Linked DNA regions of Homo sapiens: region 2 is linked to region 1. A link means that fine-mapping ties the variant in region 1 to the expression of a gene that starts in the linked region. Tissue or cell type: lung. Region 1 holds a variant in brackets; the other region holds the start of a gene. All regions are shown on one strand. Distances are between the middles of the regions.

Evidence for each region. PIP is the estimated chance that this variant, and not a neighbour inherited with it, causes the effect.
Region 2: it holds the start of EIF2B2, and the variant in region 1 is fine-mapped to the expression of EIF2B2 in lung (TOPMed, PIP 0.90).

The regions. Positions count from the first base shown.
Region 1 is chr14:75,028,883-75,034,430 of GRCh38, forward strand. It overlaps MLH3 (mutL homolog 3), which reads right to left. Exons shown (of 13, transcript NM_001040108.2): 7 at 4,537-4,608; 8 at 3,186-3,297; 9 at 1,661-1,820. Among named protein-coding and RNA genes, the nearest start is that of MLH3, 20 kb to the right of the region's middle. The variant C/T (reference allele first, on the strand shown) is at 2,399.
Region 2 is chr14:74,999,517-75,005,064 of GRCh38, forward strand. It overlaps EIF2B2 (eukaryotic translation initiation factor 2B subunit beta), which reads left to right and starts at 3,405. Exons shown (of 8, transcript NM_014239.4): 1 at 3,405-3,637; 2 at 3,759-3,879; 3 at 4,035-4,183; 4 at 5,221-5,384. The coding sequence starts at 3,475. RefSeq lists enhancers at 2,952-3,041, 3,083-3,763.

The DNA of each region.
Region 1 (5,548 bases):
TCATGCCTGTAATCCCAGCACTTTGGGAGGCCAAGGCAGGTGGATCATTTGAGGTCAGGAGTTCAATACCAGCTTGGCCAACATGGTGAGACCCCATCTCTACTAAAAATACAAAAATTAGCCGGGGCATGGTGGTGTGCGCCTGTAATCCCAGCTACTTGGGAGGCTGAGGTAGGAGAATCGCTTTAACCCGGGAGGTGGAGGTTGCAGTGAGCTGAGATTGTGCCATTGCACTCCAGCCTGGGCATCGCAAAAAAAAAAAAAAAAGAAAGAAAGAAAGAAAGAAAGAAAAAGAAAATGTTAAGAAAATCATAAGAAACAGAAAATATATTTATTATTCATTAAGTGGAAATGAATCATCATAAAGGTCTTCACCCTCATCATTTTCACATTGAATAGGCTAAGGAGGAGGAAGAAGAGGAAAGGTTGGTCTTGCTGTCTCAGGAATGGCAGAGGTGAAAGAAAATCTGCATTTAAGTGTACCTGCGCAGTTCAGACCCAAGTTATCCAAGGATCAACTGTAGATCTTAATTTGAGCCATATCTATTGATAGTTCCCTAAACATAGGATGTATCTCAAGTCTCTGATATGTATTCCTCTGTCTAGAATGCCCTTCTCCCCTCTTCTGTACTCAGCACTTTCCCACTATTCTTTTTTTCTTTTTTTTTTTGAGACAGAGTTTCACTCTTGTTGCCCAGGCTGGAGTACAATGGTGCAATCTTGGCTCAATGCAACCTCCGCCTCCCAGGTTCAAGCCATTCTCCTGCCTCAGCCTCCTGAGTAGCTGGGATTATAGGCATGCACCACCACGCCCGGCTAATTTTCTATTTTTAGTAGAGATGGGGTTTTTCCATGCTTGTCAGGCTGGTCTCGAACTCCCGACCTCAGGTGAACCACCCACCACGGCCTCCCAAAGTGCTGGCATTACAGGTGTGAGCCACCTTGCCCAGCCTAGTTTCCCACTATTCTGTAAGACTTTTCTGGCTGTGTGCAGTGGCTCATGCCTGTAGTGCCGGGGGTTTGGGAAGCCAATGCAAGGGGATTGCTTGAGGCCAGAAGTTCAGGACCAGCCTGGGCAACATAGTGAGGCCCCCATCTCTACAAAAAAAAAAAAGGAAAAAATTAGCCAGGCATGGTGGTGCGTGTCTGTAGTCCGAGTTACTTGGGAGGCTGAGGCAGGAAGATTGCTTGTGCCCAGGAGATCAAGGCTACAGTGAGCTATGATTGCACCACTGCACTCCAGCTTGGGCAACAGAGTGAGACCTGGTCTCTCAAAAGTAAAAACTTTTCTTAAGAAAACAGCTTTTCTGTGACATTTTCATTGACTTCACCTCCCCAGGCACACAAGTCATTCTGTGTTTCCATAACACTTCTGAAAAACTATCTTGGTGCATTCTAGACTCTTAGTTTTCATTACCTTTATCACTGGGAAGAAAGCAAAACACATACCTCTACTAGCCAAAGTTCACTGACTATAATTCTTTAAATGCCCTTCTTCCTTATTTTGAGCTAACTCATCTCTGAATTTCTAGCTCCTGGCACACCGCAGGTAAATACCATGAATACTTGTTGAAGAAAAGATGAATTCAGAGAATCTACAGACAAAATATGAGGTTACCATCACTCAGCAATTTCCTTAACATCTGCAGCTGTGTCTTACCTCCACAATACTCTTGGTCACAGTAGATCTTCCTCTCCGAAGTTCATTGGCTTCTCTTTCCACAAAACATAGTGGTACTTTTCCCACAAGGACCAGAGAATCACTAGTGTCTGGAAATACAAATTCAAGGCCCAGATCTTCCAGATTTTTGTGGTAACACCTAAAGAGATAACCTCAAATGTTAAAAAAAAAAAGAGTGCTACTTCATTTGCACTTCACTACTGGTTCCAAATACTACTTAATAGTTTTTCAAAAGCTGCCACAGGGCTTAACAACCGTATTGTTTTTCTCACACTTATGTGTGGGTGTTTGGGATTTTTTATTATCAAATTTCCTTTTTGAATTACAGTAACCTTTATTGTTTTTCTCTTTTCCATTGGGAATCAATCTGTGTCTAAGTCTTGTTTCTAAGTGTGTTTTCTTCATTGAGGAACTGCTAACTTCTGGCTGCTGGCACTTAAGGGAGTCTGGCATGAAGAAAAGGTCTGAGAGTGATTTGAATCAGCATTAAAGCAGGGAGGTAATTAACAGCCCAAGGAATTGAGAAGTCCTGACTAACGGGATGTAAGTAAATAGATCTGCCTCTAATATAAATTATGTCATAGGGAAAAAAAGATTTACTGGCAGTATCATATTCCCAAACCTGAAACATATTGGGAGAAATTTCTTTTTCATTTTCAATAATTTGTGCTGCCTAGAAGAGGAAAAATATCCTATCTTGTGACTCACTATATGATT[C/T]GCCCCTTCCTTACATCCCAATGTTTTACTTTCTTCCCATTATGATTACGATAATGAAAACTAAGAGTCTAGAATGCACCAAAGCAAAGCAGAATGGGACCAATTACTGCAGAAACTTTGCTTTCACAAAGCATGGCATAAACACAGACTGTTCCAAGAAATGAGAAGAGTGTTCTAAGCCAACTGCTGGAAAAAATTATCAGGGAAACTCTATCCTATACTCTTCAGCTGGGATACAGTGGAAAGAATAGGCTGGGTCCAGTGGCTCACGCCTGTAATCCCAGCACTTTGGGAGGCCAAAGTGGGAGGATCGCTTGAGCCTAGGAGTTCAGACCAGCCTGGGTAACATGGCGAAAACCCATCTCTACCAAAAAATTACAAAAATTAGTCCAGCATGGTGGTGCTCACCTGTAGTTCCAGGTACTTGGGAGGCTGAAGTGGGAGGACTGCTTGAGCCTGGAAGGTGGAGGTTGCAGTGAGCAGAGATTGTGCCACTGCACTCCAGCCTGGACAACAGAGTGAGACCATGTCTCACAAAATAAATATTTTAATGGATGATTGGATGCAGAAAAAAATATATTTTAAAAAAGGAAACAAACAGCCTGTGGAGTCAGACGACCTGCCTTTGAGTGCCTGCTCCACTACTTAATAACTGCTATGACCTTAGACAAGTCTTGTAACCTCTCTTGGTCTCATCTGAGAAATGGAACAATAGTTATGCTTATTCCTCACAGAATTATTGTGAGAATTGATACCATCAACATCACATTCTCATGGTGGTACTGACCATAAGAGTCTCCTTTGTTCCTCTGTCACTGTTATCTCTAGCGGAGGAATTAGAGTAGAAGACAGTAATTTTTTCCGACCAGAGCCTTGTGCCTGTTGCTTCTCGTAGGAATCTATTGGCAGAAAGATGAATGGGTTAAGAGTAGGAAGGGAAGTCTTCTAGATTCAGATAAAAATAAAGCACGGCCTTGAGATAATCATTCTAATGCAAAGCAGAATGTTTAATGTTCAGTTTTAGATTTTGGATTTCCATTTTTAAAGTCAAACTAATAAATATTCAGCCTATTAACAATTTTGGTAGTATTTTTCAAAATAAGAAATATAAGACTTGCATCTTACATTCAGATGAACAAGCCAATGTTCCTGTAGTTAATAAATGTTGTTTTGATGACAGAGGTGAATAATGTGGATTACCAGGAACATATGTGGGTTGACCACACAGTCTTATGGCTCCAGAAGGCTTCCCTTTCCTTGAGCAGGGTCTCCCAGTCTCTGGAGAGAATTAGTACTATTCTCAAATGGTGCAGGGCCTGTAGAGGTAAGTTTTTCTAACACTGTTTTTACTATATCTTTCCCAACTCTTAGGCCGTCATTTTATAAGGAAAAGTGAAAACAGTAGTAATATCATTGCCATTCTAGTCCATGAAGCACTCCTTAGGTCCTTGCCTAACTCTTTGACATTACTCATTGGCCACAGGAGTAAAGACTTTCCTGGTATTTTACCACTTGGTGAACACACTGCCTCATGATGAGGAAAAGGGTAGCAAAAAAAAACATTTAAAAAGCATATATTGCTTTGGAAAGATAGATTTAAAAACCAGAGATATTGGTTGTCTCTGGGGAGAGAAACTAGGAGGGGTGGGGACAAGGATAGAAAGGAGACTTTATTATATTCCCTTTTGTGCCTTTCAGAATTGGATCTATTTGATTATACTGCATATTCAAAAGCAAACTAAATTTTAAAATCAAAACAGCATACTGGGCCTTCTGAGCTGCCACTGGTCTCTGCCTGATGGAGTGTGGGAAGGCATGCCAAGATCACCGGGCATATGGAGGGGCAGAGCTTTGTGCTGGATGTCAGAGTAAGCAGCCTATCCTTGCGTACTTCTGGGTTGTTAATAACATCTGGCAAATATGCCTCTGACCACATAAATAAGTTCACATCTTTCAATTAGTGAACTACCACATTCTTTCAATTATAACACAGGCCAAACTGCAGGACTTTAGTTTAATTTTTGAACATACAGTACAAAGTGTGCTTTCTCACAACAGTTGCAGTTAGAAAAGCTCTTTGAGGTGTACTGATTCTGCTGGGAGTCTCAAATTTTTTCTGGCTGCAAACAGATCCTTACCAATGATAAGCTGCTCCAGACGTATACGCTCATGGGCAGCGTGCTGATCCACCAGCACGAGCAGGTTCCCACCTAGATGAGCAAGGATTGTGAACTTTGATTCTCAGAGCAAGACGACAACCATCATGTGTGTTGAGGACAGAGAAGACTTAATTCAAACTATCTAACAACAGCATAAGACAAAACATTCTGAGGAGTAACAATTGTATCTTTTATTTCCTAAAACATGAAATTATGGGGAAAATGATAGCAAACTTATCCCATATGTTTGAATCCCAGATCCAATTCTGAAAGGCACAAAAGGGAATTTAATAAAGTCTCCTTTATACTCTTGCCCCCACCCCTTCTAGTTTCTCTCTCCAGAGATTACCAGTATTACTAATTTTTATCCTATAAGTTTTATTATTTTCCCCATAATTTCATTTTTTAGGAAACAAAAGGTAAACTAAGAAACTCTTTAGTTCACCAGCATCTCATTTAGAAAACATAGTCAGGGCTGGGTGCAGTGTCTCACACCTGTAATCCCAGCACACTGGGAGGCTGAGGCGGGCGGATCATGAGGTCAAGAAATCGAGATCATCCTGGCCAACATGGTGAAACCCTGTCTCTACTAAAAATACAAAAATTAGCTGGGTGTGGTGGCACGCGCCTGTAGTTCCAGCTACTTGGGAGGCTGAGGCAGGAGAATCGCTTGAACCCAGGAGGTGTAGGTTGCAGTGAGCCGAGATTGCACCACTGCACTCCAGCCTGGTGACAGAGTGAGACTCCATCTTAAAAAAAAAAAAAAAAGTCAAAGTGGCATTTCCTCAAGTTTGAAGCTTGAATATATAATTCTTATGTTTAAATACTGATTTTGCCTTATTAATTCAACTTTAATATGATAAAGGATCGTTAAACAACACATTGTTATAATCAGCTAACCTTGGTGTACAAGCTACTTGGAAACCCACAAAGAATGTACTTCCAGTGCACTTTAGATCACAAGCCGGAGAACGTTTTCTGAAGGGCCAGA
Region 2 (5,548 bases), 29 kb before region 1:
ACATATTTCCTAAATTGTAAAATAACACGGAACATAAATTTTACCATCTTAACCTTTTTAAGTGTACAGTTTAGTGAAACTAAACTGGCATGAAGTACATTCACATTGTTGTGAAATATAAATGCACAACCAGGCCGGGTGCAGTGGCTCACGCCTGTAATCCCAGCACTTTGGGAGGCCGAGGCAGGCGGATCACGAGGTCAGATAGAGACCATCCTGGCTAACATGGTGAAACCCCGTCTCTACTAAAAATACAAAAAAATTAGCCGGGCGTGGTGGCAGGCACCTGTAGTCCCAGCTACTGGGGAGGCTGAGGCAGGAGAATGGCGTGAACCTGGGAGGCGGAGCTTGCAGTGAGCTGAGATCGTGCCACTGCACTCCAGCCTGGGTGACAGAGTGAGACCCTGTCTCAAAAAATAAATAAATAAATAAATAAATAAATGCACAACCATTATCCACCATCTATCTCTAGAACTCTTCTCAACTTGCAAAACTAAAACTCTGTAGCCATTAAACAGCAACTCTCTCCCTCCCCTCAGACCCTGGCAATCACAGTTCTACTTTCTTTCTTTCCTTTATCTTTTTTGAGACAGGGTCTTGCCCTGCTGCCCAAGCTGGGGTGCAGTGGCAGGATCATAGCTCACTGCAGGATCATACATAGCTCACTGCAGCCTCGACCTCCCAGGCTCAAGAGATCCTCCCCCCTCAGCCTCCCAAGTAGTTGGGACTACAGACATGCATTACCACACCTAGCTAATTTTTAAATTTTTTGTACAGCTGGGGGTCTTGATATGTTGCCAGGGCTGGTTTCAACTCTTGGGCTCAAGCCATCCTCCCACCTTGTCCTCCCAAAGTGCTGGGATTCGGGTGTGAGCTACTGTGCCTGGCCAACACAGCTTTGCTTTCTATCTCTATTAATTCGAATATTTTAGTTTCAAAGTGAGGGATTGGTTCACATTCCTCAACCTGTTTGTCGTCATGCTTTATAACTTGCATACACACACATATAAATTCTTTAGTATATATAAAATACTATATACCTTGTTTTTTTTGTTGCTGTTGTTGTTGTTTGTTTTTGAGACACAGTCTTGCTCTGTCACCCAGGCTGGAGTGCAGTGACACAATCTCAGCTCACTGCAACCTCCACCTCCCAGGTTCAAGCTATTCTCCTGCCTCAGCCTCCCTAGTAGCTGGGACTACAGACATATGCCACCACCCCCCACTAATTTTTGTATTTTCAGTAGAGACAGGGTTTACCCACGTTGGCCAGGCTGGTCCCAAACTCCTGACTTTCAGGTGATCTGCCCACCTTGGCCTCCCCAAGTGCTGGGATTACAGGCATGAGCCACTATGCCTGGCCTATATACCTTATTTTCTTAATGACTTGATATATGAAAAAATAACGACAATATCCAAAATTGGCTATAATATGGTAAATGCTAGCCAGCATGTAAATTGATACAATTTTAAAGACATTTAAAAATTAACACACAATTAGCCAGGCATGGTGGTGTGTGCCTGTAGTCCCAGCTACTCAAAAGGCTGAGGTGGGAGGATTATTTGAGCCAGGGGAGGTTGAGGCTGCAGTGAGCAGTGAGCATGCCACTGCACTCCAGCCTGGGCAACAGTGTGAGACCCTGTCTCAAAATAAACAAACAAATCAATAAATAAAAACTAAAACACAGCAAAATTGACACATATTTTATGGCTTTTTAGAGCAACTGTATTTTCAACTTCAATTTCTGATGCTCATTGCTAATACATAGAAATATAGTTTTTGTATCCTTGCTAAACTTATGTTCTAGGAGGTTTTGTTTTTGTTGCTGTTGACTCTGGGATTTTCTGTGTACACTATCATGTCTTCTGTGAACAGGGACAGTTTCTTTCCATTCTGTATGCTTTTTCTTTTTCTTGCCTTATTGCAAGGGCTAGGACTTCACGTATAATTTAAATAGGAGTGGTGAAAGTAGACATCCTTGCCTTGTCCTGATCTTAGGGAGAAAGCAATCTTTTACTGTGAAGTATGATTTTTAGGTGTAGGATTTTGTAGATACCCTTTATCGAGTTCAGGAAGTTCCCTTTTGTTCTAGTTTTCTGAGAGTTTGTACCATGAATATTGAATTTTGTCAAATGTTTCTTCCTGCATCAATTGACATGATCATGTGGTTTTACTTCTCAGATTGTTAATATGGCATATTACATTGATTTTTAAGTGTTTAATCAGCTTTGCATTCCAGGTTTATGTTTCACTTTGTAATTACATATTATTCTTTTTTTATGTATTGCAGGATTTGATGTGCTAATAATTTGTTGCAATTTTTGCTTCTATGTTCATGAGAGATATTAATCTGTAATTTTCTTTTCTTTGTACTACCTTTGGCTAACTTTGGTATTGACATAATCTTTTTGGAGGGCAATTTGTTAATTGTAACAAAAGTCTAAAATGTGCTCGCCTATGGATTCCACTTTGAAGAATTTATCTTAAGGAAATAGAGATTTCTATTACACACATACTTTGGGTTCAGGTAGACCTGGATTTAAGTATGAACCCAATCCTTTATTAACTGCTTAAATTCTGTGGGTCTGTTTCCCAATCTGTAAAATGGGGATAAGAGGACCTATTTCAGACCTTATTAACTGAGACAATTCACACACAGTGCCCAAGAACCAGTAAGCTTTAAGTAAATGGTAACTCTTGGTATTATGTTATACTCTCTGGCCTCTCTGTAGGAGGACAATTCTGTCCAAATCAGAGGATGTCATCTTTGCTTCTGTATTGGCTCCCACTTTGAATCTCCTTAATCTTCCTCATCTCTAATTTCGCCGTCTTCTGTTAGACGTGTTAGGCCTTGAGAATACAAAAGCAACAAAAGATATCGTCCTTGTTTTCAGAGACATGAACCTCCTAGACACAGGCGCAAACGGTACCAAGCAATGTAACAGAACAAAAGTGAGACGTCTGCCCAAGGGGCAGCCGACCCTGGACATGCATTCAGAGCGTCAGTGTCAGCTGACACTCGGGAGTGACAGCTCGGGCAGTCACCGAGCTGGGAAGACAGGAGGGAGTGCCGCAACTTCTTCAGTGTAGCCTTAAGTCGCGGTGAGGGGCGCGTAGAGACTTGCTGCTCCCATAGCAACGGGACCAGCCACCCTCTACAGGCCTGACGGGTTACTTCCGTTCACCGTCGGCTGAGCCAAGAAAGGCCGCTTCCGATCCTCCAGCCCCCGAGGCGCGGGGGCGCGCGGACGCCCGGTTATAACTGAACAACCCGAGCCCCACGTCTCTGATTGGCTCAGGCAGAGGAAGGGGGCGGGAGATCGGCAACGAAGGGCGTAGCCGGCTTCCACTCAAACTTGAGGTTTCCCCCCATCCCCTCACAGCGGAAGCCGACCTCGCCCGCCCCGGAAGTGCAAACTGTGTGGTCTGGCAGGTGTGGATTCCGCCGGTGAAGGCTGAAGGCAGCTACCTTAAAGATGCCGGGATCCGCAGCGAAGGGCTCGGAGTTGTCAGAGAGGATCGAGAGCTTCGTGGAGACCCTGAAGCGGGGTGGTGGGCCGCGCAGCTCCGAGGAAATGGCTCGGGAGACCCTAGGGTTGCTGCGCCAGATCATCACGGACCACCGCTGGAGCAACGCGGGTGAGGCCGGCCTGCCTCCGCCGGCGAACCTGGCCCCTGTCTGTTCCCGATCCCAGGGCTGAAAATTTCCCAGGCCTCACTTCGCGTTGGCTCCTCTTATCCTCTCTCTTTTGGACTGTAGGGGAGCTGATGGAGCTGATCCGCAGAGAGGGCAGGAGGATGACGGCCGCTCAGCCCTCCGAGACCACCGTGGGCAACATGGTGCGGAGAGTGCTCAAGATTATCCGGGAGGAGTATGGCAGGTCAGGCTCACGTCCTGGGCTCCTGGTTGGATCCAGTGACACTTTTTGCACGGGCCCCTCTACCTGCTCGGAGACTTTATTGGAGCTGAACAGCCCTTGTTACCTGCCTGACCACTCCTCCCCACCTCTCTCTTTGGGTCTTGTTGCCTCTATAGACTCCATGGACGCAGCGACGAGAGTGATCAGCAGGAGTCCCTGCACAAACTGTTGACATCCGGAGGCCTAAACGAGGATTTCAGCTTCCATTATGCCCAACTCCAGTCCAACATCATTGAGGCGATTAATGAGCTGCTAGTGGAGCTGGGTAAGAGGCCTGATCGCTGGGAAAATGGGACTGGTCACAGGCACATAAGGGAACAGAAGCCTCTGAAGGTTGTTCATTAGCAGAGATGGGAGATTAGCTGTCTTCTGGTTCTCAGAGGTTTGTCCTCCTTCCTGATTAGGAAATGTTGCAACAGGTGACAGGACCAAAGTAATCCTCTCTACTTTTCCTTACAGACCAACCCTTGATAGACTACAGATCTGTGGAGTGGAACAGACTCTATTAGGACAGAGTTTTATTTTCATTGTAAAGAAACAAAATGAACTCCCTAGAGAGCCAAGGTCGATAGACCTCCTTCACTATCTGAATTTTTATACACACGTACACGTATACCATTTCTATCCCCCTTGTCATTGCGGTCCAAGTGACTTGCAGATATTCATTGTAATCAGAGGATGAAGAAGCTGCTTCCAAATTGCTCCCCCATTTTTTCTTCTCTGGCCAGTCTCTCTCATGTAGAAGTGTTGTGGCCACCTTTTGGAGGAAGACTTCTTTTAGGCCGAAGCTCTCTTTACCCTATTCTCAGCACTTTAGGATTTCCCAGATTGCCATTCCTTGGCTGAATCTACTGTCTTCAAAATCAGTTGTAAGGAGCTCTGTAGTGACAGAGGTGGTTCATAGGTAGGGGTACTTCTGGAAGAGGGCAGGCAGAAAATCCCAGAGGAGTGGGGCTTTTAAGAAATTGTGACATAGCTGGGCATGGTGGCTCACACCTGTAATCCCACAACTTTGGGAGGCCAAGGTGAGTGGATTGCTTGAGACCAGGAGTTCAAAACCAGCCTGGGCAACATAGTGGGACCCTGTCTCTATTAAAAAAAAAGAAATTGTGACATTTCACTTTAAGCACATTAACCCTGTGGTACCAGGGTCTGCTAGGTGGGCAGTGCATGTGAAGGGCAGACATCTTTTTCCGTATACGCGTAATGTGTGTTTGTGATATAGCAATTTCATATATATATATATATATATATATTTTTTTTTTTTTTTTTTTTTTTTTTTTTGCAAAACCGTTCTTACAGAAGGGACAATGGAGAACATTGCAGCCCAGGCTCTGGAGCACATTCACTCCAATGAGGTGATCATGACCATTGGCTTCTCCCGAACAGTAGAGGCCTTCCTCAAAGAGGCTGCCCGAAAGAGGAAATTCCATGTCATTGTAGCAGAGTGTGCTCCTTTCTGCCAGGTAAGGAGACTGCTGGAGTTGCTACTAAGAAAAATGAAAAATGAAGAAGAAATAAACGAGAGATGGGTAGGGCCATTCCAACCTTGAATTGATAAGCAAGACTTTGAGACACTGAGAAGATCAAGTAAAACATTAAGTGAATTTTCAAGGTGTTCGTCCTGTGA